Regions from separate parts of the Homo sapiens genome. Here regions 1 and 2 are each linked to region 3. Evidence: fine-mapped expression QTL. A gene starts in region 3. Each other region holds a variant in brackets. All regions are shown on one strand. Distances are from middle to middle. Region 1 overlaps UPK1B (uroplakin 1B). Region 2 overlaps UPK1B (uroplakin 1B). Region 3 holds the start of B4GALT4 (beta-1,4-galactosyltransferase 4).

The links.
Region 1: its variant is fine-mapped to the expression of B4GALT4 in whole blood (INTERVAL, PIP above 0.99).
Region 2: its variant is fine-mapped to the expression of B4GALT4 in whole blood (INTERVAL, PIP above 0.99).

What each region holds. Positions count from the first base shown.
Region 1 is chr3:119,184,590-119,192,901 of GRCh38, reverse strand. UPK1B (uroplakin 1B) reads right to left here. Exons shown (of 8, transcript NM_006952.4): 2 at 6,092-6,188; 3 at 4,927-5,127; 4 at 2,583-2,657; 5 at 1,798-1,920. The coding sequence starts at 6,160. Among named protein-coding and RNA genes, the nearest start is that of UPK1B, 15 kb to the right of the region's middle. The variant G/C (reference allele first, on the strand shown) is at 4,127.
Region 2 is chr3:119,202,829-119,211,140 of GRCh38, reverse strand. It overlaps UPK1B (uroplakin 1B), which reads right to left. Exons shown (of 8, transcript NM_006952.4): 8 at 5,998-7,224. The coding sequence ends at 7,174. Among named protein-coding and RNA genes, the nearest start is that of B4GALT4-AS1, 20 kb to the left of the region's middle. RefSeq lists enhancers at 3,743-4,267, 4,268-4,794. The variant GGGA/A (reference allele first, on the strand shown) is at 5,112.
Region 3 is chr3:119,236,782-119,245,093 of GRCh38, reverse strand. It overlaps B4GALT4 (beta-1,4-galactosyltransferase 4), which reads left to right and starts at 4,216. Exons shown (of 8, transcript NM_003778.4): 1 at 4,216-4,244; 2 at 8,024-8,241. All of the region lies in intron 3 of B4GALT4-AS1 (B4GALT4 antisense RNA 1), which reads right to left. RefSeq lists silencers at 3,350-3,399, 4,050-4,529.

The sequences.
Region 1 (8,312 bases), 52 kb after region 3:
CAAAACAGTAGTAGGACAGAATAGTGGGTGAATGTTGGACAAGGGAGTCTTTTTATAAGATAGACAATTTAAGGTGTCCATGTAGGCTGTTGAAAGGGAGAAACTGATGAGGCAGATCAGAGCAGGGAAGACTGTTGGGGCAAAGGAGATGGAATGCAGAACAGAATCAAAAGAGCTGGACAAAGGACAGCCTGTGTGACATAACAAGAGAGAAGGCAAAGTGCACAGGTGTATATCAATGTAGATTTGGTGGTAGAAAGATGAGGTGGTTCTTGTCTAATTTCTTCTATATTCTTAAAAACATATGAGGTCGGGTCATCAACTGAGAGGGAGGGTGAGAAGAGGTGTGGCAGGCATGAAGGAAGAACATGTGAAATAGTGACAAGTGAATTTTCTGGGAAAATATACTAGGAAATATTGTGTGCCCATTTGAGCTCTGTGGTCACAAGTTTAAATTGAAATGATCATGGTTGTGTGACTTTTCTCAGCAATGTTTAGCTCTTAGAGTATAAACGAAGAGTGAGCAAAAAGCTATATTCTACTCGGTGGGCTTGGTTAGGAAAGAGTGACCCACAGAGAAGGGTAGGGAAGGACTGGCTATGGGGCTGGACCTGAATATGGGTTAGGCAAAGAGGAAAGAGAAAACATGAAAGGGGTGATAAAAGTTAAAAAGTGGTCAATTAATTGGAGGTCCTAATGGAATAAAATTATTAGAATTGAGATATTAGAATAAATGAAAGAAATGATAGAAATTAATGGTCAGAGAATGGAATGTTCTTAGTGGCACAGTTACTGGTGATGGCATGCTGACTATGGTCATGGAAGAGGGTGGAGGTGGGGAGAAAGACAAAATCTTTGGAATGGGGTAGGACAAGGAATTGTGAGACTAAATGTTGCTGAGTCATCCATGTGGCTGCTGAAGTTTCTAGGTGGGATATCAGGAGTATGACTGAAGAGGTAGATAGTTAAGTGAGATATTGAAATCCCTAATGAAGGCAGGAGAACGACTGAGGGTAGGGAGGCTGGTAAGTAATGGCAAGGAAGGATAAGGGGTGATGTAGATCAAGGAAGCAAATAGTATGGCAGCCAAGGGGAGCAAGAAGGACACCTAGCCAATTTCCAGGTCCTATGGTACATGGATATGGGAGGAAAATGAAGGGCAGGTAGCACTCCCAGGAGATAGCCAAATTTCCAATGAAGCAAGAAAAAGATAGTAAAGAGTTCATAGAAGGAGTGGTGGCTATAAGGGAGTTTGCTGATGACAGACTGTAAAAAGTTGGTGGTGGGGTGTGGAGTAGGAGCAGGGGCCAGTAAGAAAGCTAGGTCAGATTGGTAGTTATGTAGAGGATAACAATTTGCATACAGAGGGCAATGTGGGGGTGATGATGGATATTCTGGAAGACTTGGACTTTTGATGGCACTGGAGATAAACATGGACATAAACTATGATTGCCAGTTGGAGAAAATTGGGTGATCAAATCAAGATATAGGGCCTGGTCCTTGGCAAGACTAGCTCACAGGAGTTGTGAAGAGGTACCCAAAAGGCGAAACAGGCAGTAATTACCACTCGAGTTCACTGTGGGGTAGAGAAAATATTTTTCTTTTAATGTAAATGATACCTGAGTTCTAAGAGGGAGAGTGTATGATTAACCTAAGTTTCTTGACAAAATCATTCCAACAAATGTAAGCTAATCATCATGGCTTGAAATAAAATATAGGGTCCCACTGAGTCATGTGTATGACACCCACTCCCACCAGTAAGTAAAAATGGCATCTCCCCAAGACCACAGGTCTTACCTGGAGCATGAGCCTGTCCCAGGTTTTGGTGACTCCATTGTTTTTCCACTGGTCATCATTGTTTGGAGGGCTGTTGTTTTGGTACCTCTCTAGCATCTGCTTCAGGAAGAGGTTGGGTGTGAACTATAGTAGGAAGAGGCAACACAAGAGGGAGAGATAGCACGCTAATTTTCAAGGAGAGGAAAATATTTTTCTCTGTCTTTTCCTGGGGACACTGAACATTCTCTCCTGGAGCAAAACTGTACTCAGAGGCACCAAGTACAGCTGGCTGAGGTTGGCATAAGTCCCCATGCAGAGAAGAGACTCTCATCTTAAAAGAAATCACTATGAGGCCAGGGGAACACATACTGTAGGGTGGCTTAGGCTAGGAAAACAGAGAATGGGAGAGAAAGAAAGATGTAGAATTGAGAGCACGTCTTAGCTGAGGTAGAACAGAGATCCTCCCATTGGAAGGCCCATGGCCATGGCAGAGTGGTGAAACCCACAGGGGATTACAAACTTGGGCCCTGGGAGTCAGGCCATCTGGGTTCAGAATTCTTGCTCTTTCAGTTGCCAACTATGTCACTTTAGACAAGTCATTTTACCTTTCTGTCTCATTTTTTTTCCTTTCTCAAATGACCAGAGTGATAATGCCTATTTCATAGATTTATGAGGATTAAGTAAAATGATAGATGTATTATTACTGTGCATATTGGATTGCCTGGGCACATAGTAAGGGGTTAATACATGTTGGTTGTTATAATAATGATAATTCATATTATTTTGCTTTTTGAGGTTGTACTCACAAAGTCTTGTTGTGTTGCTGCTGTGATACAAGATGCCACTTCAAAGGCATATACTATAAACATCAGAATGAAATACTGGAAGGGAAATAAATGAGATAAAAGAATTACATTTACCCGTCAAAGAGCGACTTGCCCAAATAATTATGTTTTTTCAGCAAATTTATCATATAATCATGTAATCACTCATGTAGTTATTCAACAAACCCTCATTGACCAGTGGCTTGGATTGAGGCTTGGTGCTAGTCAGCTCAATTCTCTCCTTTTCTCCAGAGAACAAATAGCCATTGAATACAGACCTTCCTCAGTCCAGTTTCCTGAGTTTCTATTTTAACTGGGAAAAACAAGTACAAGAGAATGAACTGGTGTGTATGTGTGCACACACACATGTGAGCATTTACATGCTCATTTACATGTGTGCATTTACATGCATGTGCATGCTCAGTGAGTGGCAAGAGAGTCTTAGTGTATCACATACAGTATAGGGCCTCATAAATCCCCTTTAATTTTGGAATTTTGGAGAAATTTTCTTTACAATTTGCTGAAAATTTAGAATCACGGAGTTCAGAAAAAGATGAACTGGATAATGTTGAACATCTAGGGTCCTTCCTAACAAGCATCCAGTCTCATCAGAGGAGAGGCAGGCTTCAAGTGCACAGCATTTGTGGGTGTTCTTTCACACGCACCCACACTCAAAGTACATTGGTTCAGTTGAGTGAAATGGCATTTGCTGTGTGTGGTAGTGGTGGTGTGTGTGCGTGAGCATGGGCACATGGGTGCGTGTGCACATGATACCTCCACATGACAGTGATGCTATTTCTGGCTGGAAAATATCCGAACAGCAAATGACCTCTGAATCTGGGATGGGGACTGTTTGCAAGAGTTCCAGCTTTGCCTTCCCCAGGCTTGCACACACTCTTGGGAGAAGGGGCACTGTGGTCAGTGTCAGCAGGGTAGGCAGGGAAAACTGTCCTCCTCTTTGGGTATGGGAGGCTCTCCGAGCAGGACCCTCTGTTGCCCTCACTACTCAGCCCAGAATAAAGCTCTGGCTACAGTCAACAGCAGGAGCACCTTCAGAGGCCCCAGAACATTTTTTTCCTGTGTTAGCTGCTGCCTTGCTCCTTGCCAAGAGCTTTGCTGGCTCCTGGTAAAGACGCTCCAGAAAGGAGGTATGCAGTGAGGTGTTTCCTCCTTTAGCCCCTTTGCCTCCCCAGCTCAGTTCTCCTGGTTGTCAGGCATGCACATGGCTGGCCCAAAGTGAGGCTGGGATGCAAGTGAATTTGTCTTTAGGAACACCTGTGTCTCCTCTCCCTTTTTCCTGTATTCCTTTCCCCACCCACCAAAAGTGGGTACTTTTGCCCTGGAACTTACGCACACTAAGGAACCAGAGAATGTAAATGTTCTGTAATCCATTGGAACCAGGACAGTGGTTAGTTAAAAGGAAGAGTAAACTAACAAGCACCTTACATTGCTGGACTCATTCTATAAAGGGGGAACTGAGGTCCTGCAGCATTTGAATAAAAGGGTTATTTCAGGGGTGGGGGATT[G/C]GAGGCGTGTTCCATAATAGTGTGAAACTGCTGCCCTAAGTATTAGGGCAGACAGTAGGGGTCCACGTCTGAAACAGGTTTCTCAGCTCTGCTGCCTGCAAATTTGCTTTCATCTGCAAAGGCAGGGCATGGTCTTGCTGTCTATGGTTTGGGGCAGAAGCCTCTCCTTGATGTACAGAGTTAAAGCCCCCACAGGCAGGTGTGAGCTGAAGGCTCACTCTACAGTGGTGCTTATCAAGGTTTTCTGGGGTCCCTGAAAAGCAGATTGGATGATAATGTGGGGAGTATAGGCTATGATACAGAATCATCAACCTTGAGCTCAAAAATCTTTGAAAGCTTATACTTTCTTTTAAAAATGTATGCATATTTTATATTTTATATCCTAATATATTAATGCCTAATTAATATCAAAATGTTTTAAACAAGTTATTGCCAAGAGAAAAAAATCTAATGAATGAATTCTCACTGTGTCTCTCCTTTGGCCTATATAGCTCCTAGCTGTACCTACTGGGTGTATGCAGACACCAGCTGTAGAGGCACAATATGGAAAATACTCATTAGGTCACCCCCAGGTGTCTCCCCTTTGGCTTCTCTGTACTGGAGCCTTCTGGGCTTGCAATAGTGGAGGGCATCTTTGCCTCCATGTGGACCATTTCACTGCAGGGAAAGTCTTCCCCTCCTCACCCCTTATCTGGTACTTCCTGCTCCCCCACTGAAAGCCAAAGCATTGCTCAGTGAAGAAGAAAGAATCCATTACAATTGGCTCAGGGAGACAACTCCAGAGAATTTTGAGGTCTTACCGCCAGAAGAATTTTCCTGCTGGACTTCATGATGCCTACAATGCCTAGAACAGACAGGCAGAAGAGGCAGATGCCCACAAATATGCCGATCCAGGCAGCCCCATAGATGTCATCGTTGTCGGTGGCTTCAAGCAGTGGGTAGAGGCTGTGTTGGTCAGATACAAAGAAGATGCACTCCGCAGTCAGGGCAATGCCGCAACACTGGGGGCAAATGAAAGGTGGGCTCCATCAGGAGTGCAGCTTTGGGAAAGGGGGTGGAGGGTGGGGAAGGTAAGAGTGACTGGCTCCCTTTCCTGCACAGGCTTTATGCAACTAATCTAAACTCCCCATTGCCAGGAAATCAAACAACTACTTCCATCCTACTAACTGGTTGCATACATCCCTTCACATGTTATTCTGTCTATTTAGTAACAGACCCACACAATTTCAGACCATCCACAATGTCCTTGGGGCATGAATCACTCAAACAATGCTTTCTGGTATGAGAATGATCTCCCCCTGCCCCCATGTCATGACCCACATTTCTGGGTTGTAATATTTGAGCTGGTCCTGGTCATATTTATCAATGACAGCTGAGAGGAACCTTGCTGCTTATCTTTGCCAACACCCACATTTTATAGATGAGGAATCTCAGCCTTGAAAGGTGATGGCCAGAGTCATATGGGGAGTCAGAGGGAGAGCTGGGCCAAGAGCTCTGGACTCCAAAACAAATGTTCTTCTATGCCACCAGACCCACACAGTATGGCCTCTGTATTATTCTTACACCCTGGTACTGGCCTCTGTATGAGAAGAACAAGATGCAAGCATCTGTCCCAAAAAACCTTAACAGCAGAGTCCCATGGAAATCAAACCAAGGTGACATAGAAAAGAAATAGTGAAGTGTGTTCGTAGTCAGAGTGTTTAGACACTGACTATGGTTGACATGACTCCTTTTAGATACTTATATTTTAAAGTTGGGAGGAAAATATCTACTTTTTCAACCATGATCTTTTGACATACAGTTAAATTCTAGCTAGCATATTTACTAACACATTTCTTAAAATGAAGCAAAAATATAGGAAGCCAGTAATCACAGCATTATTTTCCTTTAAACTCTTACTTTTGATTCATCTAGAATTATGATTACAGGAAGTGCAGAATTTCCTGGAAAATAATCATTACTTACACCAATAATCACATTTCCAAAAATCAGCAGGCCCTGGAAGCAACGAACAGTTGAGTTGTCTTTGGCCATCTTCGGGATTTCCCACAAGCTGAAGGCACTGTTGAAAGCATTACCAAATAACTGCTACAGTTTCTGTAACATGAGTAAACCAAGCCATTGCGTATTGCCTCCTTGTTCCCAAAGCATCCAAACCAAAGCCATATAATCTTTTAGCGATGAAGGACATTTGATTATTGAGCTTGGTAATCACATAACTTTTATAAAGAATGAAAAGAATATAGCCTTCCAGAGCCTGGTCAGTGCCTTTCAGGAGTTCTTTCAGGCAAGGAGTGTGCAGAATGCATCCTTCTGAGTGGTGGACTGAGCCCCGCAAGGTGGAATGCACAAGGGGTAGACCTGAGATGGTGATTGGGTAGGGCCAAACACACTGAGGGTCCCTGGCATAGCCCTCACTGCCCTTGGCCATGACAAATGGAAACCCAAAGGGTAAACTCATGGCCAGAGGTAGTGGTTGGTTCCCATGTGGACTGCAGGGTGCTTTTAAAAACTATCATTTTCTGACTCTTTTATTATCTTCAAAGAAATAGTTGGCAAATAAAAAAGTGCCCCGTTGTATATGAGGGTAAGTGAAAACGGGGACTAGAATTTACTTCCTTCTGCCAGGTGTGTGCCACTCTACCAGGTGCTTTGCATGCACGCATCTAATTCTCATAACCCAGTTCGGTAGCAAAAGAAGAAAGGCGAGGAGGCTCCATTTTGCAGATGAGGAAACTAAAGCTTAAATTTGTAAATTAAGTTCCCTGGGGTCACACAACCAGTAAGTGGCAGAGCTAGGCTAGAGACCTTGGTGTGTGTGACTCCAGAGTCCACGTGCTTCCCCACAGCCCACAGTGACTCCCAGAAACTATGTATAGACTTTGGTGCCATACACAGCTGAACATGGGTCTCTCACCTCCCTGAGGATTTTCTGGAAGGAACACAAAGGTAAGTGTGTGGGTCAATCACTTGGGCTTCTGCACTTGAAGCACCTTGAGAAAAGCCATCTACAGCTCTCAACATTTAATTAATCAATTCATGCATTCCTGCTGTAAATAAAAAATGTATTAAATGGTTCAATATGCATTCTGAGGCATACAAAGATATGTAAGGGAGATTATTGTATTCTAGGATTTTTTGCGTTAGTAGGGAAACTAAGATGCATTCCCACACAATTATACTACATGTAGTGAGATGAAATATTGTGAGAGTCCTGAGGCGGGAAGACGTAAGTCTTGCAGGATGTGTATGGTTTGATATGTAGAGTAGAGGTGGATATGTGTGGGAGTGAGGTGGGGGTGGGTGACATTCCAGGTAAAGAGAAAGGAAAAGTTAGGGAGTAGAGACAGAAGAGCAAGGTGCCCACAAGATAGCAAACCAGTCAATTTGGTCAAAGTCCTAGTTTTGTAGGGTAGCAGTGGGAGGCAAACCTTCTATTTGTCTCAAGCCTTGCTAAATTTTAACCTCATTGTTACACTGTAAGTATTAACAACCTTCCAAGTAAGTTTAGACATCTCTAAATGTTTTCCTTTATCTGTTTACCTGGGTAGCTGTGACAAGTTCAGTTAAAATTTATGAGCACTTTTAGCTCAGAATTTGGCACACAGTGGGTACTCAATTCATGTTTGCTGGAGAAATGGAAGAATCTGGGCCATTGCGTCTCTGTGTAGTTTCTGCTTAGAAATGCCATTCATTTCTTTCTGCTTAGAAATTTCATTCATTCTTTCCAGTTATTGTTGCGTGTTAGACTGCACAAACTCCCCCAAGGGGGAAACTTACTCATGTAGCTGGTTGAGTCACATTGTAAAGTTCATTACTGGTATGTACAGACATTATTCCTGACCAGTTGGGTTAGTATCTAAACTAGAGACAAAAGTAAATAGACTGTGAAACGTAGGAGTTCAGATAACAGAAGCATAGAGAGGAAAGGGCAGAAATCAGTAGAGGCCAAATTCAGCACCGATATCAACTCGTACTGATTATGTACTGTGTGAAATAAGACAATTTCTTCTTTCAAGAAGTTTATTTTTATTATTATTATTATTTTTTGAGACAGAGTCTTGCTCTGTTGCCCAGGCTGCAGTGCAGTGGCACGATCTTGGCTCACTGCAACCTCCGCCTCTCAGGTTCAAGCTATTGTCCTGCCTCAGCCTCCCTAGTAGCTGGGACTACAGGTGCCCACCGC
Region 2 (8,312 bases), 34 kb after region 3:
CAGGCTGGAGTGCGGAGGTGCAGTCTCGGCTAACTGCAGCCTCCACCCCCCAGGCTCAAGTGACAATCCTCCCCCCGTCAGCCTCCTGAATAGCTGGGACCACAGGCGCACACCACCATTCCCAGCTATTTTTTTGTATTTTTAGTAGAGATGGGGTCTCACCATGTTGCCCAGGCTGGTCTTGAACTCTAGAGCTCAAAATCAATCTGCCTGCCTGGGGTGCCCAAAGCGCTGGAATTATAGGTGTGAGCCACAGTGCCCGGCCATGTTTTTTTCTTTACTTAGCAGAGAAATACTCAGGGTTTTCATGTTTTTTGCTCAAACTTTGTAAAGGAGCTTCATTCTTGGGAGATTTGCTAATGAGGCTGTAGTCTGTTGAGTAAATCTCTCCCTCACTGTCCCTTCTCTTTTCTGTAGAAACTTTGTCTAGAGCTCTCTCCCAATTTGCTTGACTATGACCATATTAACAGACGGTAATTGAGAGGTTGTAGGTCCCTCCCTCATCATGGTTGGGAAGGGCAATGGAAGAGAATGGTGTGTGCAAGGAATTTGAAGATCTGTATTTGAGAACTCAATTTCTTACTCAATGGAAATGGAGTATAGCTAGTACCATGCAGAAACTCTCTTGTGTTTTTTTGACATCTGCAATTTTTTAACTGTTGGAAACCACTGAATGATGCCTTTTATTTTTCTTCAGGTAATTCTTTCAACCAAGATAATCTAAAAGTCCCTTAAATGACTTGTTATGGAACTTCTTGAGGTGGAAGATAGTTTTTTAAGACCTTGACACTGCCATTGTGACACTTTCCCTGCACTGGGGCATCAAAGGCTGGTGACACGGGGCATGAGGCCGCCTGCCCACTCACTGCTGCCTCCCTCCCTGCTCTTGCCTCCCCACTGGGCAGGGGGTTTGGCTTCAAAGGAACTGGCTTCCTCCAGTTCCTGCCCTGTGCATTTTCTCATAGTTGCCAAAGAGGCCTACTGTTTTAAATATTGTAGAGACAGCTATGCCTACTATAATTGCTAAGGATTATGTGGGGGCAGGCTATTTGGATATCACAACTACCTAACACAAAGAGTGTGTTACTTTGAAGTTTTCATTGATTTTTTTTCCTCACCTATACTGGCATTCATTTCTATAGTGCTTTGCAGTTTGTGATATCTTTACACACACTTTATTGGTGCCGCTTACTCTTTTTTTTTTTTTTTTTTTTTTTGAGACAGAGTCTCACTCTGTCACCCAGGCTGGAGTGCAGTGGCACAATCTCGGCTCACTGCAACCTCCACCTCCTGGGTTCAAGTGATTCTCCTGCCTCAGCCTCCCAAGTAGCTGGGACTACAAGCATGCCTCACCATGCCCGGCTAATTTTTGTGTTTTTAGTAGAGACGGAGTTTCACCATATTGGCCAGGCTGGTCTTGAATTCCTGACCTCAGGTGATCCGCCTGCCTCTTCCTCCCAAAGTACTGGGACTACAGGCGTGAGCCAATGTGCCTGGCCGATGCTTCTGACTCTTGAGGTAAGAGGGCAGTTGAGTAAGTTGAGTAAGTAGAGGTCTCAGCCAGGAGGGTGCCTTGCCAGGAGTCTCACAGGCAGCAAATGGCAGATTCTGAGCAAAACTCGGGCCCTTTGACTTTCAAGACCATTACATCATATTGCCTTCTTCTTGGCTTCTCTACTTCTTTGTGGTAATTTTCCTGAATGTGTGTCATTGTCTTAATTCCTACAGAGAGTTAGTATTGTCTGGACCCTGGAAAGTGCATTCCTGTTCTCAGCTGCTCTCAGAACTTTGTCCCCAACTCCATCTGTAATTTTTCTGCCCTTACCCCCATCACTTCCACTCAAGCCCCAATGGATAGATTTCCTGGGAGCCCCAAAATGCTCTGTGAATGGACTTGAGTGAGATAAAAGACATTTTCTCCCAGACTTGAAATTCACTTTCCCCAATCCTATTCATATATGCAGTCCCTACCAAAAACCATTAACATGTTCTGCAAGATGAAGCATATTCAGGTACATTTCATAAGTTCTTTTTCACCAATCACATTCTATAACTTAAAAAAAAAACCCTCTATCCTTAGTGCCTTCGATATTTTATGCTATTTCTACCTTCGTTGATTTTTTTGTATATGCATAACCATCTTATACCTGCTGAGAGGGCCTGATCATTCTAAAAGTATACACAAGGGAGTGGTTTAGAGGTTCCACCCCTAGGAAGTACACCTGTACAGGTAAAGCCTCCATTGTTCCATTGATAATTGTTAAGATTTAAATAAAATTATCAAACCTTGTGTGCCCATGTGTGGAGTGTGAGTGTGTGTGTGTGTGTGTGTGTGTGTGAGAGAGAGAGAGAGAGAATGAGAGAGAGATGTGGGGGCTTGGAGCAGAGGTTGGTGAAGGGTGGGACATAATAATAAACTAAGTGCTTGCTCTGTATCAGTTTCCTTGATATAACCTCCTGATTGGCATCTCTTATAGACCGATGCACACTGTACGTATCTTACTGAATCCTCCCAGTCCTGTGTGAGGAGAGACCAGTTTTTCTGAAGCAGGCTCCAAGAAGCTAAGTGACTTGTCAAAGAGCTGGGATTTGGAGCCAAGTACTTTGACTCCAGAGTTCATGTTCTTAACCACTTCATGGTGATGGATAAATAAATACACCTACACCAGGAAGGAATAAATACATCCTATTTCCTAGAGGAAATAAGGATTGGAAGACTAACTTGGAGAGTGTCAATGCTCTTCAGCCAAAACCCCCCAGGAACACATTGCAGATAAATTAATTGGGTTAGAGTTGATCAAAGGGTACAAAATTTCAGTTGGAGGAATAAATTCAAGAGCTCTATTTTGAAAAAAATTGGGATTGTGACTAGTTGCAATCGTTGCAGTGAGTGAGAACACACCATGGGGGATCCATGAAGCAACTCAGTAGAAGGAAGTTAGAATTATTACAGCATTTGGGCTTTGGTTGGGTCATTTGGGGAGGGTCCAAGAAAGGGTTTGCTCTGTTGGATATTATCAGAAAGCAGGGGCAAGTCCATGGTTGTTTATTTCAATAAGTTTTATTTGTAGGGAGGGAGACTAGCAAGAGAATAAAGCTGTAATTGGGAAGACATAGCAGTCACTAATTTTAGCCAAGAAAGCAGGTGTTTGGTTTTTTGTGGGTGGCACAGTGACCTTGTTTTTGTCTATGCATAGACAAAATTATGCAGTGGCCTTGGCTTGCCTCGTTTTGTCATGGTCTCAGAGTGACCCTATGAGGCTGGTATTCTGTGAGATTGTTTATGTCTAACAGGAGAATAGTTGAGCCTAGTTGTGAGTGCCTCACCAGCATCTGTTGCTCTGTAGTTCTTTTTCAAGAGGAACTCAGGGTAGAAACCACTAGAAAGTAGGGCATGACAGTACCATTTCTCCAAACTCCAGGATTTGACTATTTGTGTCTTAACAATGTGGAGTGGGGGCGTGTGCTGGGGGAAGGGTTGGTTGGAGAAGTGTATGGGATCTCTGTTTCTCGGCAAGGCTGCCTTTCTCTACAATGTTTCTGGATCCCTTTACGGGATCTGGCCACTTGAGCCTTATAATACAATAGCAAACTCAGTAGTCTATAGCTACCCTTCTTTGGGGTTCTTCTTTGATTCAGTCTCACTTATACAGGCTGAGAAGGATCTGGAAGAGACACTAGAGGAAATACTAGACCCAGAAGGAGAAAGGAAATTGTTCCATCAATAGAAATGAGAAACCAGCTTAGTTTCTAATTCCTCAACCACAACACAGGTTGTCAGATTGGTTGGGGTGGGGGTGTGAGATTGAGAGGAGGTTAGATTTTCAAGTTCACATGACTAGTATTCCTTTTATGGGTAGCCAGAAAATATCTGATCTTCTGTTTAAAATAGAAGCAGTTCCTGTTTATTCCAGCTGATGTAGAGAAAGAAAAGCTACAAGGCTGACAAGTAGGAGCAATGGGCTTTTAAAAATTAAATGACAGACTGTTTGCCTGCCAGGAGCCTGTGGAGCAATCTAGGGATGGAAATGGCCAGCCAAGAGAGCATGATGACCCGCCTGGCGTTGCAATCAAGTAAAACTTACCCAAATTAGCCTGACACATTTTTGGTGTTAGTAATTATTCTTTGCCCACCTGATAAGCAGGTGTTGAAGAGGGAAGTTTCACAAGATAGTTGTGTCTGGGCCTGTCTCACACTCAGCAAGCTGCCAGATCCCTAGAGCCAAGCCGCCTGGTTCCCCTTTGCCTCCCTGGTTTGCTGGGGCTGGGGCTGGGGCTGAGCCTGGGCCTGCCTGAGCATTGGCTTGGGGCCACTTCCAGTCCCTGGAGCCAGAAGGAAGAGGGGCAAGGCTGGGCCTCCAGGGAAGGTGGAGGGACATGGGAGCAGGAACTGGGCAGAATAGAAACTGTCCTGAGGTTAAAACAGGAGAGCCCTGTAGAGGGAAGCACAGGAGTCCTGAATGGCCAGACTCTCTGCAGGGTGATCCTCAGACCTCGTTTCTGTCTTAGCTGAAAGGTGTGTCCTCCTCAAGTGTTGGAGCCCCAGGACATAGTGGGTGCCTGTGTTTAGGACCTTATTTGGTTTTGGAAGGAGCAGAGCCTGCCCCCATTTATAGTGGACTTTGCACCTTCTATAAAGGAGGCTGAGGCTGCAGGAAGGAAACTAGCTGGAGAGGGGGCAGGGGGCAGTGGCTCACTGACGGCCCCTTCTCTTTTAGTTATTGCTTGGTAAGGAAGTCAGGGGATAAGATTTAAGGAATAGTAGGTGGGCCATCTTGTCCCGCAATGGCTCTTTCATGCTCCCACTGCTGTGCTGGATTCCACCAACTAGAGATCAACCTCAGTTATCAAGAAAACGTCATAGAGATTGAGAGAGTGGAGTTGAGTTGTCACCCACTCCTTAGTATGAATTGGTTTCCAAAAAGGCCTTCCCCTAACCTAGCCGAGATCTAATCATAAGAAGGGAATTTTGCTACTTGGGTGGCTGAGGCAGGAGAATCGCTTGAACCTGGGAGGTGGAGGTTGCAGTGAGCCGAGATCGTGCCATTGCACTCCAGCCTGGGCAACAAGAGTTAAACTCTGTCTCAAAAAAAAAAAAAAAAAGGGGGGGG[GGGA/A]GGGAGGCGGGGAATTTTGTATGTAGAGAGAATTTTGGAGCATGAAGCCCTGGAAGGGAAGTAGGAGTGGGTTTGGGGCAGGAATTGCTCAGGCAGTCGGGAGGTGAGGGCACTGGAAAGCCCAGTGAGTGGTGGAGGCAAAAGGCACCAGAACACACAGGAGAGAGTGTGCGGAGGAAAATGAGAGCACGGCTGTTTCAAAGCTTTGCCCAGAGGAAGCTCCTTCCCTGTCCTCCTGTCTTCTAAAGGACCACAGAGAGAACCTTCTCAGCCAAGCACAGGTGTCATTTATCTCGATATCCCATGATCTTCATTCAGGAGAGACAAGGCAGGCCAAGGAGAGGTGAACTGGCTGTGCTGTCAGGACATGGACATTTGGTTCCCTCTCCTGGGAATCAGGGATCGGGCTCCTGCGCCAGCTTTACAACCAAGGCAAGTCCCCTCCAATCCTCCTTGTCTTTCCCCTACCCCCACGCTCAGCCTCACTCACAGGTACCCGGTGGGGGCATGGGATGGGGGTGCTGCCTGCGTCTGAGTCAGCTGGGAGCAGGACGCCAAAGTGTTTTCTTCATGAAGGACACACAGTTCTGCAGTTAGCATGGGCGAGGTTTCCACTGCTTTCAATTGCATGAGGTAAATGATTTGAAGAGCATTAGTCTCATCACTGCTTCTGGGGTAAGTGTAGCAGGAGCAAAAAGTAAAAGTGAGCGTAGAAGTTCCCACCGTTTAACTGTAAGGCAGCGTTTGCCAGCATCCAGCAGGAAGCCACACCCTGTGTCTGCAGTTTCTACCTCCTCCACTTTAATTCCCATGCTTTAGGCTTTTCTGTTGGAAAACCCATTTTGTTAGACTCATATATGACATTGGTAAAAATGAAAGTGAACAGATTTTAAAGCTGTCTTTACTTATAAGACCAGACAAATGTTGAGTTATAAGAATTTCCTTCAGGACCACAAATGGAAACATAGTGCAGATGAGAAATATTTTGACAGTAAACAGAAATCCCTGTAAATCACCCCATTCTATTGGCTGGCTTGCTTCTCTCCAGTTTGAAATGGTCTCAAGCTGAGACCATTCAGGGCAAAGACTGAGTAAATATATAACAGGCACCTTGTCTGTCCCCAGAAGTCCCCACGCTTTTTTGTTTGTTTTGAGACAGAGTCTGGCTCTTTCATCCAGGATGGAGTGCAATAGGTACGATCTCAGCTCACTGCAACCTCTGTCTCCCGGTCAAGTGATTCTCCTGCGTTAGCCTGCCAAGTAGCTAGGATTACAGGCACCTGCCATCACGCCTGGCTAATTTTTGTATTTTTGTAGAGACGGGGTTTCACCATGTTGGCCAGGCTGGTCTTGAACTCCTGACCTCAGGTGATCTGCCCACCTCGGCCTCCCAAAGTGCTGGGATTACAGGCATGAGCCCCCACGCCCAGCCCACACTTTTAATTAATGGAGAATTGAGGCTACTAAACACATACTTCAAGGTATGAAAGGAAATTTGAACCACTGTTAAGAATTATTCTGGAGAATAAAAGGATCTGAAGGTGGCATCAAGAGAATCACCCATCTCCATATATGGGAGCTACTCTAGAAAGAAATGCAAAAGGTATATTTCAGTAATCTTTTCCCAACTTCTCTGTTCCCCTGACAATACTGAGATCAACAGAAGCATTGGAAGGTTTCTTTTAGATAATAGTGAGAGATACAGGCAGATTGCTAGCCAAATACAGCTCTGGGTTACTGTGATAACACAGGTTCCTTCGAATGTATTTATTTTCCCAAATTAAAAATAAGCAGGGATGGAAGTAGTTATTATGCATTTTTCAAATTCTCCTTTCAACAGTCTATATAAATGTTGCAGAATGCTAGACTAGGATGAAAAGTAGGAGTCATGAGAACTGCAGAAGCCTGAGATCCTAAAGGAAGTCCGTACCATCTGACTTGGCAATGTAAGACACACACGTTAGTGTGGGGCACAAACGTGGAATATTAGGAGAGAGCTGGTTCCAGCACCAAATCCAGAGTCACTCGGGGAAGGAGGTATGGTGGCAACACTTTATGCTTAATATTCAATTCTGCTCCAGTAGAACATGGTACCCAGGAGAACCCAAAACTGGAATAGAAAAAAACAAGGAAAAATAAACAAGGGATTGTTTTAGAAACATCTCATTCTTGGAAAAAGTGGATGTTAGGTTCATTCAGGCTTAGGTGACAACAGATTTTTTTGTTTGTTTGTTTTTATTTCTTCTAAAAAACCAAAACAAAAACAGGATACATGTACAGAACGTGCAGGTTTGTTACACAGATGTACGTGTGCCATGGTGGTTTGCTGCACCTGTTGACCCATCCTCTAAGTTCCCTTCTCCTCACTCCTCACCCCTCAGCAGGCCCTGGTGTGTGTTGTTCCCCTCCCTTTGTCCATGTGTTCTCATTGTTCAACTCCCACTTATGAGAGGGAACATGCAGTGTCTGGCTTCCTGTTCCTGTGTTAGTTTGCTGAGGATGATGACTTCCAGCTTCATCCATGTCCCTGCAAAAACATGATCTCATTCCTTTTTATGGCTGCATAGTATTCCATAGTGTGCATGGACCACATTTTCTTTATCCAGTCTATTGCTGATGGGCATTTGGGTTGGTTCCATGTCTTTGTTAGATATCAGATTTTTTTTTTTTTTTTTTTTTTTTTTTTGAGACGGAGTTTCGCTCTGTCGCCCAGGCTGGAGTGCAGTGGCGCGATCTTGACTCACTGCAAGCTCCGCCTCCCGGGTTCACGCCATTCTCCTGCCTCAGCCTCCTGTGTAGCTGGGACTACAGGCACGCGCCACCATGCCCGGCTAATTTTTGTATTTTTAGTAGAGACGGGGTTTCACCGTGTTAGCCAGGATGGTCTCGATCTCCTGACCTCGTGATTTGCCCGTCTCGGCCTCCCAAAGTGCTGGGATTACAGGCGTGAGCCACCACGCCTGGCCTAGATATCAGATTTTTAAGAGTAATCTCGTTATAAGCAACATCACTGGGCCAGATGTGACACCAAATCCATCCTGCTCCAAAGCATCACTTATTACCTGCCACTCAGAAGCAACTTCTGTGTTCCCCACGTTCTGATCCCAGTTCTCATCCTAGATTCCTTGTCTTCTGGGGTTGCCCTTCTCGTCTGTGCTAAACTCTTTTTGCCATCAAGGCCACTTATCCTCCAATGCC
Region 3 (8,312 bases):
AAGGCTAAAGCCTTCTCCCATCATCTGGATTTTCAGATTCCACAGTAGGAATGTGTGTTCAGAGGCAGGCTCTCCCCTTTTCCTACACTGAGAATTCAGTTTTTTGCCTGTCTCACAGACTTTGCTGTGGTGTGCTCCTTTCATAGGATCTGCGAATTCTTTTGATTTCCTGGTAACTTCCTGCAGTGGTTCTTGGAATAAAAGTTCACAGTGTTAATTGCTACACACTGTTCTGTCCTTCCAAGTGGGAGAGGCACACTAGCACTGCCTACTACCTGCCATCTTAGAACAGATAGACAAACCAAAACATATTTTTTTTATTTTTAATTTTTTACTATACTTTGTTTTAGGGTACATGTGCACAACGTGCAGGTTAGTTACATATGCATACATGTGCCATGTTGGTGTGCTGCACCCATTAACTTGTTATTTAACATTAGGTAACCAAAACATATTTAAAAGGATGTAAATTTATTGCTAAGTGTGGACTCATGGAGGCCCCATATGGCCACCTGGTTCTTCCTGAGTCCTTAAATCTTCCATTATTAAAAACTCTGTACTCCATTACTCATCATGGGGTAGACAAAAAACTAGTTCTGGGAAGACCTATATCCTTAATAATAGACTCTCATGTATCTCCTGCTCTTATAAGCTTTGCTGTAACTAAATACTGCAAAGCTTTAATCCATTATATGAAAGTGTGTTTTCCCCAGGTAAAAGCCTTTTGTGATACACTGAGTACAACCAACCTTTCACAATCTAGAACTCAGAGATTGAGTCTTCTGGAAATAACATCCCATCTGAGAAAAACTGCTCTTGTATCCCATTAGAAGAGATTATATCATGTACTTCTCTCACCACCCACAGTAAAACTTCAGGGCCTCGAGTTTTGGTCCATACCTTGTAACTCAAAAGAGCCCCTTCAAACTCTTGGAATTATACACCTGTTGGAGATCTTAAGGTAGGGAAGTTTCTCCCCAGAAGCAGATGGCATCCTAGACATGGACAGCTTTCTCAAGATCATGGATCAAGACTTCTCTGCTATCATGACTATCTTATCTTTTTTTCTATTTTTTCCATATTTCCTGCTGGGAAATCCATGGGACCATAATTTATAGATGGCTTTAGCTAAGGCTCATGCTCTAACAAGAAAAACTAGAGCAACTGTTGGGTTTCTGGACTGATGCCAAAAAAAAAACCCCTAGGAAACAATTTTATTAATGCCAATGCCTCTCTGTGAAATGAAAGCCACCCTAAAACCTCAAAAGCAGATTGGAAAGCTATCTTTAATTTTGTAGATATCACTGCTACTTGCTTTCCTACACTTACTGAAAGCAATAACCCAACTTCTCCAATTAATAACCTACCAGCTACCAAATATAGAAAAGCTGAGTGATTCTTTTTTTTTTTTTTTTTTAGATTAACTTGCTTGGCTCCTTTATTATTCTCCTTTATTATTAAACTTCCTCAGCATAATGTGATTTGGGCAGACAGAGATGTTATCCTGTGGCTTATTGTTGGCCTACATTCTCTTTTTTTTTTTTAAATTTATTTTTTTTTTAGTATTTATTGATCATTCTTGGGTGTTTCTCGGAGAGGGGGATTTGGCAGGGTCATAGGACAATAGTGGAGGGAAGGTCAGCAGATAAACATGTGAACAAAGGTCTCTGGTTTTCCTAGGCAGAGGGCCCTGCCGCCTTCCGCAGTGTTTGTGTCCCTGGGTAGTTGAGATTAGGGAGTGGTGATGACTCTTAGCGAGCACGCTGCCTTCAAGCATCTGTTTAACAAAGCACATCTTGCACTGCCCTTAATCCATTTAACCCTTAGTGGACACAGCACATGTTTCAGAGAGCAGGGGGTTGGGGGTAAGGTTATAGATTAACAGCATCCCAAGGCAGAAGAATTTTTCCTAGTACAGAACAAAATGGAGTCTCCTATGTCAACTTCTTTCTACACAGACACAATAACAATCTGATCTCTCTTTCTTTTCCCCACATTTCCCCCTTTTCTATTGGACAAAACCGCCATCGTCATCATGGCCCGTTCTCAATGAGCTGTTGGGTACACCTCCCAGACAGGGTGGTGGCCGGGCAGAGGGGCTCCTCACTTCCCAGACGGGGCTGCCGGGCAGAGGGGCCCCCCACCTCCCAGACGGGGCGGCGGCCGGGCAGAGGGGCCCCCACCTCCCAGACGGGGCGGCGGCTGGGCAGAGGCGCCCCCCACCTCCCGGACGGGGCGGCTGGCCGGGCGGGGGCTGCCCCCCACTTGCCGGGCGGGGCGGCTGGCCAGGCGGGGGCTGCCCCCCCACCTCCCGGGCGGGGCGGCTGGCTGGGCGGCTGCCCCCCACCTCCCGGACCAGGCAGCTGCCCGGCGGAGGGGCTCCTCACTTCTCAGACAGGGCGGCCAGTCAGAGACGCTCCTCACCTCCCAGACGGGGTGGCGGCGGGGCAGAGACACTCCTCAGTTCCTAGACGGGTCGCCGCCGGGCAGAGGCATTCTTCACCTCTCAGACGGGGTGGTGGGGCAGAGGCGCTCCCCACATCCCAGATGATGGGCGGCCAGGCAGAGACGCTCCTCACTTCCTAGACGGGGTGGCGGCCGGGAAGAAGCGCTCCTCACTTTCCAGACTGGGCGGCTGGGCAGAGGGGCTCCCCACATCCCAGATGATGGGCGGCCAGGCAGAGACGCTCCTCACTTCCTATACGGCGTGGCAGCAGGGCAGAGGCTGCAATCTCGGCACTTTGGGAGGCCAAGGCAGGCGGCTGGGAGGTGGAGGTTGTAGCGATCCGAGATCAAGCCACTGCACTCCAGCCTGGGCAACATTGAGCACTGAGTGAGCGAGACTCCGTCTGCAATCCCGGCACCTCGGGAGGCCGAGGCTGGCAGACCACTCGCGGTCAGGAGCTGGAGACCAGCCCGGCCAACTCGGCGAAACCCCGTCTCCACCAAAAAATACGAAAACCAGTCAGGTGTGGCGGTGCGCGCCTGCAATCCCAGGCACTCGGCAGGCTGAGGCAGGGGAATCAGGCAGGGAGGCTGCCGTGAGCCGAGATGGCGGCAGTACAGTCCAGCCTCGGCTCGGCATCAGAGGGAGACCATGCAAAGGGGAGACGAGGACCGTGCAAAGGGGGGAGGGAGATGGGGAGGGAGACAGAGAGGGGGAGGGGGAGGGGAAAAGCTGAGTGATTCTTGCAAAAGGTATATATTATGCTTCCAGGCATCATATGCTCAAGACCTGGGGACTATGTGGGTATAAGTAACTGATTGTATAACGCCACTGGATGAAATCCAGTAATGTCCTTTTTCACTAAATGTGGTTATACACCCTTACAGCATGTTACAAAGGGAACACAAAAAAATAAGTTTCACACTGGACCTTGTTCAGGAGCAGTGTTGACCTATTTCACTGACCTATCCTCAACTGCCACTAGGTGGCCCTCTTTTCCAGCTTCCAAGGGCCTACATTGGGCCTATGCGGCCTCAGTATAGCCTCAGATTTCCTGCTATGAAGCTTAATGAGCCCAGCACTGGCTCTAGCTATGGTTTGTTCCTTTTTGGGTGGAGTGGATGTGTGGTTCTTGGAGAATCTACTACTTTCCCGTGAGTGCAGTGGGAGACTGCATTAGAGAATCTAGCTATCCTGACTGCCTAAACAGAGCCTACCATAATTTTTCACTCAAATCTTTAGTGTAAATATAATTGTCTTTGCTTTCTGTAATAATATCTTTGAAGAAATACGGATTTAAAAAAATCATTTAATATTCTCAGACCTGCAACATGGGAAAAATATTATTATTATTATTATCATTTTTGCAGTTGAGAGGGCTGAAATCTCGCAGGGTGATTAAGTTTATTAGCCTCTCTAAAGTCTCAGTTTCCCACTCTGTAAAATGGAAGGGTCCCTATCTCTTTCCTACTGCTTTGTGAGTATTTAAGGGGATGGAATTTGGGAAGCGCTCAGCACCCAGTCTACTATTGGCACAGGGTTTTAAAGCCACCCAGAGGCCGAGGCGTCAACCCTCCGTTTCCCTCCCGGTGCTCCTTCCAGCGCCCGGTGTGGTCGATTTGGCGGGGGTGGAGCGCCAGGCGCGTGCAGAGCCGGGCGGACCAGCCTCTCCGGCCAAGGCGGGAGGCGGAGCTCGTACTCAAGAGCCGCCTCCCGGGCGGCTGGGGCGGTCCCCGAGCTGCTTTCCGCGTTCTCCCCTCTCCGCGGGCAGTGCTAGCTCGCCGCGGCCGCCTCCGGGGTGAGTACGCTGGCTCCGCCGGCGCCCGGGAAATGCAGTTCCCTGGACACGGGCGCCGTGCGAGGGTAGCCGGGCGACGGCCGGGGTCAGTCCCAGGGCTGTAGCGGGGCGGGCGTGGGGATGACGTGGCGGCGTCCGTGGGGCAGTCCCGCCTCAGCCGGAGCGGTGGGCCGGGCCGGGGGCCTACGGAGGCCGAGCCTGGCGGGAGGCACCGGCTCAGGTGCTGGCGTTCCGCGCGGCGCCGCCTCTGCTGCGGGCCGGGGGAGCCAGACGAGGTGCTGCCGGGTAGGAAAAAATCCAGGGCTCATTCATACCCCAGGTCACGATTCCGGGGTCGCCCCCAGCACTTCTCCGCCGGGTGCATCAACCTGAAAAAGCCCCTTCTTCCTGGAAACCCTCCTTCTCCAGCGTTTCAACGGGGAAACTGATCAGCTGACACCAGCCCCAGTCCTGCGAGGGGCCGGCGACCTTTGACCTTTCTCCAAAGGGGTTGGTCACCTGGATTATAAAAGACTTCGGAGACAGCCATCCAGTGTTTGTTGATCTGTATCCCTTGATGTTCTGTCTTCCATTAGATAAGGGCTGTTAATTCTTGGTTTGAAAAAAAACAGACAAAGTCCAAAGGACTCTGCATCGAGGAGAGGCCTATGGGTTGGTAGCCTTAGGAGAGTAGTTATCAACAGTGGGTGGGTGTGCACACTGTTGCAAAGTGTTCCAGAGTGGGTGAGGGATGGGGACGTGGCGGTGGTGAGGGTACTGGTAGACCTCCTCAGCCGTTTGGTGATGAAAAGGAGGAAAAAGAAAATGGTAATCTGAGCGTGGAGGCGAGTTGTGGCTTTTTTTTTTTTTTTTAAATTTTTAAAGAAAGGAAAATAACACCTTTAAGATGCAAGAAAATCAAGGAGAGATCAGGATGAATAGGATTCAGGGTCCGGATTGAGAAACTGGGATTCAGAAGGGAGGGCTATTCCCGAGACCCAGGCGGGGAGTGCTGGAAGGTCTCTCTTGGGAGAGGAGATAATGCTTGATTGGATATAGTTCAGAAGTTTTTGGAATTTTGTCTTCTAGAGCAGGTTTGTTCTTTATGGAAATTGTAAACCCCATGAAATTGCAATAACTTTCGTCTACCTATAGCTTTGATCAGATTGAAAACATACGTTGTGAAAAAGTACTGACCTGGATTGAACTGTTTGACTACATAATCTAAGGGGAAGTGGATAGAGAGGGCAATAAAATCAGCTCTGTGGTTGTAGTTTATATGCCACTTAATATAATAAGTATTTAGTATCTACTTTAAGCCGAGCTAATAGTAATGCCTGCCTTTTCCAGAGATGCATGCAAATGTTTTGGGAACTAACCTTCTCTTTGAAGATCTTTTATTCAGTGGAAACATCCAAAGCAAATCAGTGATGGTTTTCTATTCTTTGTTTTAAGCCATCAGTGAACAGTGGTTTCTAAAACCTGGCTGTGTGACTCAGAGTTACCTAGGTTCTCGATAAAAATATAATTTTTTTTTTTTTTTTTGAGATGGAATCTGGCTCTGTGGCCCAGGCTGGAGTGCAGTGGCACAATCTTGGCTCACTGCAACCTACACCTCTCAGGTTCAAGCAATTCTCCTACCTCAGCCTCCCGAGTAGCTGGGACTACAGGCCCAGGCCACTACTCCCGGCTAATTTTTGTATTTTTAGTAGTGATGGGGTTTCACCATGTTGTCCAGGCTGGTCTGGAACTCCTGACCCCAAGTGATCCATTTGCCTCCCAAAGTGCTGGGATTACAGATGTGTACCATGGGCCCAGGCAAAAATATCAATTTCTTGACTCCACTTCAGGCCTTTGAAATAAAAATCTCTGGGGCTGGAGCCTGGGAATAGGCATTTCAAACACAGACCACAGTGTTCTCTGGCACTGAAGATTACTAACAGCCTCTGAAGTTTTTCTTTGAGATTGGGGCTTTTTGGCCTATTTAGAACAGGTTTTCTTAAAGGTTATATGAATGAATTGTCAAACTTATGTAACTAAAAGTTATAATTCCTGTCTGTGATGTTATCTTTAAATTTTAATGTACAGTCGTCCTCCTTATTCTTGGGGGATATGTTGCAAGACTGACAGTGGATGCCTGAAACCGTGGATAGTGCCAAACCCTATATACGCTGTTTTTTTCTATATATGCATACATATCTATACTAAAGTATAACTTATAAGTTAGGCACAGTAAGAGATGAATAATATCTAATAATAGAACAGTTACAATATGCTGTGATAAAAGATATGAATGTCATCTCTTTCTCAAAATATCTTACCGTATTTTTTTGTGGTTAACTGAAACCGCAGAAAGTGAAACCAAGGACTACTATATTTTAAAGGAAAACTATGTAGTCATTTTATCAGAAAACAATATTGTTTCTGTTGATGAAAACTCCATTTTAGAAAAATTAGAAGATACAAAAGAAATAGAAGTTTTCTCCTAATACTGTAATTAAGAGATGACCACCAGTGACTATCATTTTGTATGTAAAAGGTATGCACACACACATGTATTGCATAATTGGTATTATATTTTATATACTTTTTTTTTTTTTTTTTTTTAGAGACAGGGTCTCTGATGCCCAGGCTGGAGTGCAGTGGCATGATCTCAGCTCACTGCAGCCTCCGCCTCCCGGGTTCAGGTGATCCTCCTTCCTCAGCCTCCCAAGTAGCTGGGACTACAGGCATGCGCCACCATGCCAAGCTAATTTTTGTACTTTTAGTAGAGGAGGGGTTTCAACATGTTGGCCAAACTGGTCTTGAACTCCTGGCCTCAAGTGATCCTCCCGCCTCGGCCTTCCAAAGTGCTGGGATTACAGGCATGAGCCATCACACCCAGTCTTTATTTCATATACATTGTTATATCTTTTTTTCTACTTAGCTGTTATGAGCATTTTTCTGTGTAGTTATTGTAAACATTTTAATGAAAGCATATGTCCCATCATATGGATGTATTATAATTAATTAAATCAGATCGCTATTGTTAACATTTAGACTCTTCAATTTTTGGTTATTTTAGCAATGTTGGTTTGAATATCATGGTATACCTCTCTGATTATTTTCTTAGAATACATTTCTAAATGATGGAATCAAAAACCTTTCAAATACATTTTTAAAATCTCATTTTCACATATCTTCTTACTGCTTTTCCTTACCAGAGGGAAAACTAACATATCTGAAAGATTGATTGCATTCCAGGTCCATTCTCTTATATCAGTGGTTCTCAAACTTTAATGCAGATAAGAATCATTTGGGGAGCTTGTTAAAATTTCATTTTTCTGAGTCCTAGAGGCTGCTGTTCTGACCCATTGGCTTTGGAGTGGGGCCCAGGAATCTGCAGTTTTAACACATTCCTTTATGTATTTGATAAAGGCTCTCTTGGAACCAGATGTTGAGAAATGCTTTTTAAATAAATGGCCAAACAGACTCAAAACATTTAGGTTACTTGTCAAAAGCCATTCATGCATCTGATAACCAGAATTTGAACTCAGCTCTTTGTGACTTCAGAGCCCTGTTATACCCATGATCTCAGAGCTTTTTAAACCTTTTTAAGGTTTACGGTGAGGTGCCCCTAATGACTGCAGAAAGTAAACTCCTACTGACTCCACTGTTGGTTTCTTAGGGACAGCTGAAAGTCACATATAAGTACACAATGAACTTCTATTGGAACCTCCCATCAGAAATTCTGGTGAATTCTCTATTATGCTGCATAACATATACTACACAAAATAACTTTGGTTGTTTGGGTGTTGCAGGACCACCTGGCTTCATGTGTGGATTTCCACGGCTCTTGCCCAGAGGCGGGTACACTGTGTTCCAATGTGCCACGGAACTCACGCAGTGGCACTTTGTGGCTTCATGAAGGAAGAGGCAGGCCACGCAACACTTCCTCCCCAAGCCAAGGAGAAGTATCACTTTTAGAGGCAGAGGAGCGGAAGGCAGTGGGTGTGACCAAAAGTGCCATTTGTTAAAGGTGAGGACCCTACCCTTAGAAAAGTGTTGATATTAGTGAACTGAAGGGAGCTAGTATCGGGGTGAGCCTTT